Regions from separate parts of the Homo sapiens genome. Here region 2 is reported to be linked to region 1. The links are microRNA targets in miRTarBase. Many come from high-throughput screens and were not tested one by one. Region 1 holds a microRNA gene; the other region holds the end of a gene's coding sequence.
Evidence for each region. The annotated mature microRNA hsa-miR-4687-3p reads UGGCUGUUGGAGGGGGCAGGC and lies in region 1 at 1,397-1,417, shown strand. An mRNA with a match to its seed (bases 2 to 7 or 8) in the 3' UTR can be bound and repressed. Matches are read on the target gene's strand: a 7mer-m8 pairs with bases 2 to 8, a 7mer-A1 pairs with bases 2 to 7 and ends in A, and an 8mer does both.

Region 2: the mRNA of ZNF793 is a reported target of hsa-miR-4687-3p. The part of its 3' UTR that is shown has no 7-base or 8-base seed match.

Annotation. Positions count from the first base shown.
Region 1 is chr11:3,854,717-3,857,716 of GRCh38, forward strand. MIR4687 (microRNA 4687) reads left to right here and starts at 1,346; the gene lies at 1,346-1,425. STIM1 (stromal interaction molecule 1) reads left to right here and starts at 948. Exons shown (of 13, transcript NM_001382567.1): 1 at 948-1,693. The coding sequence starts at 1,555. It overlaps STIM1-AS1 (STIM1 antisense RNA 1), which reads right to left and starts at 862. Exons shown (of 2, transcript NR_183662.1): 1 at 641-862. RefSeq lists enhancers at 203-1,148, 1,364-1,573, 1,724-1,803, 1,814-1,863 and silencers at 334-383, 864-923, 984-1,143.
Region 2 is chr19:37,537,544-37,540,543 of GRCh38, reverse strand. It overlaps ZNF793 (zinc finger protein 793), which reads right to left. Exons shown (of 8, transcript NM_001013659.3): 8 at 1-3,000. The coding sequence ends at 2,665. All of the region lies in intron 1 of LOC124904708, which reads left to right. Among named protein-coding and RNA genes, the nearest start is that of ZNF571-AS1, 9.9 kb to the left of the region's middle.

The sequences.
Region 1 (3,000 bases):
GGCTGAGAGCTTGAGGGCAGGTAGGAAAAAGGGCTGTGAGAGCTAAGGGAGGGCATCCCACTTAGCTTGGAGGGGAAGGGAGGCGGGGTCGGGAAAGCAGATGGCACCCTTTAGCCCAGACTCAAGGAATGTGTAGGGGAATTTTAGCTAGAGTGGTTTGGACATTTCATTTTGCTTTCTGGCATCATCATTTCCTCAGAAAACACTCGCAGGCCCCAGTGGCCCTCGTGGGCCTCCCCCGGGGCGGGTCTTAGCTTCACTCGGCAACCCTCTGCAAAAGAGCAGGCCCTCCCAGGAGCGCCGAGTCCTGTCTGCAGTTTGCTGATTTTCCCACCAGGGGCCGCTGCGCATGGGCGACGAAGCGCGCGGGTTCCCAAGCCGCAGAGAGGCGGAAGCCGATTGGTTGTCAGGCGAGGCGCGAGGGCGGAGCCTGGGAACTGGCCGGGAGTTGGGGGCTGGGAGCTCGCCCCCGGGCCGAGCCGGGTCAGGCTGTTGTCGCCTCAGGCAGCTCCTGGGAGGCTAACGTCGTGTCCTGGGCCTCTGTTTAGACAGCTCTAGAACTGAGGCGAGTGGAGCAGCACCAAGGCCCGGAGATCGGGGCAGGGCAGCTGCTGTCGCCGCCGCCGCAGGCCTGAGTTACCTGAGTAACTGCGGGTCAGGGACCCGCCCGACGGCCCGCGGTTGGCGCTGGAGACTCTCGGTGGGGAAAGGGAAGCTGGGACTTGATCCTTTGCGCGGGATCCTGGCAAAGACTAGCGCGGGCCGGGGGTCCGGGAGAGCCCGCTAGGGGCGGGGATTCCGGGGAGCCGTCTTCACCGGTTATTCCGGGATCCAGCTGGGCGCTGGGGCTGGCCCGGGCTTCGCTGGGGACCGGGCGGCGCGGGGCGGGCGCGGAGACGCACGCCCCCGCCCGCCCCGGGCCCGCCCCGCGCCGCCCGCCCGCCTGGAAGCCGCTGTCCTGGGCCTGGCCGGTGTGCGTCCGCCTGCTGGACCTGGGCACCGCCAGCCGCCTGGGCACGGGACTGGGCGGGGGCGCTGACCTCGGCCTAGGAGGCCCAGGATCCCGGAGACGCCCGCGCCCTCAGGACCCTGCGGGTCGCACGCCCTCCCCAGCTTCTGCTGCTCGCCGCTCTTCGGCAGGGCGAGGTCAGGTGCCCCCTTCTCGCCTCTCTTCTCTTCTCTTCTCTTCCTCCTCCACTTCTGTGCCCGCGGAGACTCCGGCCGCCCCCTTCCGCAGGGGTGTAGTAATCTGCGGAGCTGACAGCAGCCCCGCAGCCACCCTGCCCGAAGTCTCCGGAAGCGGCACGAGCTCAGGCCGCCGCAGCCCCGGCGGACCCACTGTTGGACCTGAGGAGCCAGCCCTCCTCCCGCACCCAAACTTGGAGCACTTGACCTTTGGCTGTTGGAGGGGGCAGGCTCGCGGGTGGCTGGACAGCTGCGGAGCCGCGAGGGCATCTTGCCTGGAGACCGTCGGCTGCACTCCCGGGCTCCTGGCTTTGCCTCTGGGATCCCGAGGTGTCCACATCAGACGCATGTTGACTGAGACCTAGAGTCATGGATGTATGCGTCCGTCTTGCCCTGTGGCTCCTCTGGGGACTCCTCCTGCACCAGGGCCAGAGCCTCAGCCATAGTCACAGTGAGAAGGCGACAGGAACCAGCTCGGGGGCCAACTCTGAGGAGTCCACTGCAGCAGGTAAGGCCTTGCTGCGGGCTGGACTGGGCTGGAGGCTTTGGCTCAGGACTGAGTGGCCCGAAGTGGGCAAGTTGAAATCTAGGTTTGTACATGTGAGGTTCATGGAGGATTCACACATGGCACTGCCTGTTCCAAGTAGTTCAAGAAGTTCTTTCTGGTCAGTAGTCATGGCAAATGCCTGTATCTTTCCTGAACAACTTTCCTCATCCCCCGCACTCAGGATTTTTTTTGTTGGCAGTAAGAAGAAGCCTTTGGGGCAACTTGACCTTTTAGATCAGCAAGGAAAGACCCCATCTTAGGCCTACTTGTCTGGAAGAATGGCCTGGTGAGATGATAAGTTCATTGCTCCTATTCGGTTTTAGTACTGAGCAGCATGGGGGAGGTTGGGGCCACTTATGTTGGAAAGGGAAAGTTAAGGCTGGGCCACCTCTGTTGCCTGAAAGCCTGGTGTTCAGGTGTGCCTATTCCAACAACCGTGGGAACCCTAGTCCCACCCTTCCCTTAGGTAGTCTTGTCTCTTTGCTGTGCGCATTTGAAATATCCAGGCGGTTTCTTAGATGGAATCCTATTTACAACTAGGGTGTTAAATGGCCTTTTCTTGACATAGACATGATATAATTCCTGGGACCACTTGTTGACTTATTCTGTTTCTTCTGACTGATGAGGGTGGGAATTCCATGCTACAGGTTTTTTTTTTTGTTTTTTTTTTTTTTTCCCTGAGTCTGCTTGCTAGGGAAACCATGCTACTTTTGATCTGTCATGGTTTTTCCTATGCAGTTGTGAAGGCTTATCAGGCAGCAGGAGCCCTGGTATACTTTTGCAGTAGAAAGGAACACTTTTATGTTTTGTTTTGTTTTTTTGAGACAGGGTCTTGATCTGTCGTCCAAGCTGGAATGCAGTAGTGTGATCACAGCTCACTACAGCCTCAAACTCCTGGGTTCAAGTGATCCTCCTGCCTCAGCCTCCCGGTAGCTGGGACTAAACACAAGAGCCACTGGGCCTGGCTAACTTTTTTTTTCTTTCTATTTTTAATTTTTTGAACAGACACTGTCTCTCTGTGTTGTGCAGGGATCCCTCCCAAAGTGCTGGGATTACAGGTGTGAGCCACTGTACCCATCAAGGAACTCTATTAAAATCCAGTCATTTTACATAAGGCTTACGAGATCAGTTCTCTTTTCCCATTTCTCTCACCCTTTGGCTGTGATCTGCCCAAAGCTGTGACCTGCAGTGTGGGGAGAGTTTATAGATGAGTTGTTTCTGAGCATAAGCAAGTTCAAATGAGGGAATGGCTCAGTGGGCACCTGCTG
Region 2 (3,000 bases), not on the chromosome of region 1:
TAAGTGGTTCCCATCTATTACAATGTAAATTAACACATTCTATGAAATGCCTTCTCAGTATCTGTTGAGAGTTCATATGATTCTTCTCCTTTAAACTGTTAATTTGATTGATGCATTTCCTATTAACTGAACTGGTTTGGCATTCTTGGGATGACTCTTACTATGTCACTCTTTGGGTATATGGCTGAATTCTATTTGCTAGTATTTTAACTATAATTTTTGTTTCTATATTCATGAGTAAGACTGGTCTGAAGTTTTCTTTTTTTTTTTTTTTTTTTGACGGAGTTTCGCTCTTGTCACCCAGGCTGGATGGCACGATCTTGGCTCACCGCAACCTCTACCTCCTGGGTACAAGCAATTCTCCTGCCTCATGCCTCAACCTCCCAAGTAGCTGGGACTACAGGTGTGTGCCACCACACCCGGCTAATTTTTGTATTTTTAGTAGAGATGGGGTTTCACCATCTCGAACTTCTGACCTCATGATCCACCTGCCTCGGCCTCCCAAAGTGTTGGGATTACAGGCGTGAGCCACCGCACCCAGCAGAAGTTTTCTTTTTTCAACTATCTGTATTTGATTTTGGTGTTAAAATTTATTCTGACTTAATAAAATAAATGAGTACAGTTCATGGATTGTATTACATCCATATAATAAATAACACTGGTATTACTCTTTCTTTAAAAGATAGAACTAAGCATGAACTCTTCTGAGCCTGGAGCATTTTCCCATTATAGATCTTTAATAGCTTTTTTGAGTTTTTCAATGTTAACTATCCTACCAAGTTTTCTACTTCTTATTGCAGTTTTCATAACTTAAGTTTATTAGAAAAGCATCCACCTCCTCTTTTTAAAAAATATGTTGATTAGAGTTGTATGAGGTATCTTTTTATCACTTAAAAAATCATATTGATATCTGTGGTTATGTCTCCTTTCTCATTCTGGATCAGGCAGTCTTACATGGAGGGAAATCTTGAAAAATGTAGATTCCACATGGCCATTTATTTTCTAATATGGATGACATAGCAACTCAGGGAAGCAGACTTCTTTCCAAACATTGAAATAATTAAAACCTTGGGATTTAGTGTCTAGGACACTTGCAAGGAAATTTATATGAAAAAAATGAATATTCTTGAATTAATTTGCAGAGGGATAGAGAGAAAAGAAATTCTCCTTCAGTGGTCTACGCATGAAACATTTCTGAGTTATACAACCTGTATATAGAATAGTGTATCTAGAATAGTGTAGCAATGCTACTAATTTGCTACAAGATATTTTAAGCAAGACTAAGAAAATATGAACAGTGTACTGTACACCAGGGTGACACTACATTTTGTCAAATAGTTTACAGTGTTTCATTTACCCAGTATCAGGTTCTTAAACTATTCCTTAGCTTGCATTTTTAATATAAATAACTACATTTTAGTAAAATTTTTGGCCAAATTATCCAAATACATTTAAAAACACTGCTTTATTATTTCTGCAGAGGACAGTAACAACCTCTATAGCCATTTACATGTATTACAAAAAGGTGGAAAAATGTAGCTGGTATAATAAAGTTCTTTTAACAATAGTGGGCCATGTTGTTGTTATTTTTTTGTATTGTTAAGACATCAAAAGACAATGATGATATTTAAAGTGGAAAAGTTTTCTGAATGGCATTCTATATGTTGTGTGACATGTGTCTGATATTCACATTTTATGTTAATTTCACATTTACAACTCCAAAATACAAATAATGCTGATTGTATGGCTCACTGTGGAATATACCAGAGTATGCCTTTAAGTCTCTTCACAGATATTTTGTATTCTGCTGTTATTCCATTTAATACATTTTTAAACGTTTACATGCCAGGGTGTCCATGCTTATGTTTGAGAAAGTATTTTCTAGAAAAGTTTGTATCACAATTAGATCATGATTTCCATTATGATACAACACTGTCGGTTGGGCGCGTTGGCTCATGCCTGTAATCCCAACACTTTGGGAGGCCAAGGGCGGGGGGTTGGGGGGTATCACGAGGTCAGGAGTTCGAGACCAGCCTAGCCAAAGAGACCAGCCTGACCAACATGGTGAAACCCCATCTCTACTAAAAATACAAAAATTAGCCAGGCGTGGTGGCAGGTGCCTGTAATCCCAGCTACTTGGGAGGCTGAGGCAGGAGAACTGCTTGAACCTGGGAGGCTGAGGTTACAGTGAGCCGAGATAGTGCCATTGCACTCCAGCCTGGGAAACAGAGAATACAACTCAAAATAAATAAATAAATAAAATAAAAACACACTGTTCAAATTCATTAAAATGATAAGATTTCTCCTAAGGATAAATTCCCTACATACCGGCCAGGCGCGGTGGCTCACGCCTGTAATCCCAGCACTTTGGGAGGACAAGGCGGGCAGATCACAAGGTCAGGAGATCGAGACCATCCTGGCTAACACGGTGAAACCCCGTCTCTACTAAAAATACAAAAAAAAAATTAGCCGGGCATGGTGGTGGGCACCTGTAGTCCCAGCTACTCGGGAGGCTGAGGCAGGAGAATGGCGTGAACCCGGGAGGCAGAGCTTGCAGTAAGCCGAGATCGCGCCACTGCACTCCAGCCTGGGTGACAAAGTGAGATTCCAACTCAAAAAAAAAAAAAAAAAATTCCCTACATACCATGAAACCAGATATTTTGCTCAAGTATTTCCCACAATTATTAAGTTTTCATTCCTGTAGGCATTCTTCCGAGCATGAATTTTCTGATGTCTGCTGAGGTTTGGCTTCTGGTAGAAAGCTTTCCCACATTCATTGCACCCATAGGGCTTCTCTCCTGTGTGAGTTCTCCAATGTTTATTGAGGCATGACTTCTGGCTGAAGGATTTTCCACATTCTCTGCAACGATACGGTCTTTCTCCTGTGTGCATTTTTCGATGTACATTGAGGTATGACTTCTCACCAAACGATTTCCCGCATTCACTGCAGACAAAGGGTCTCTCTCCTGTGTGTGTTCTCTGATGTTCTGTGCGGTGTGA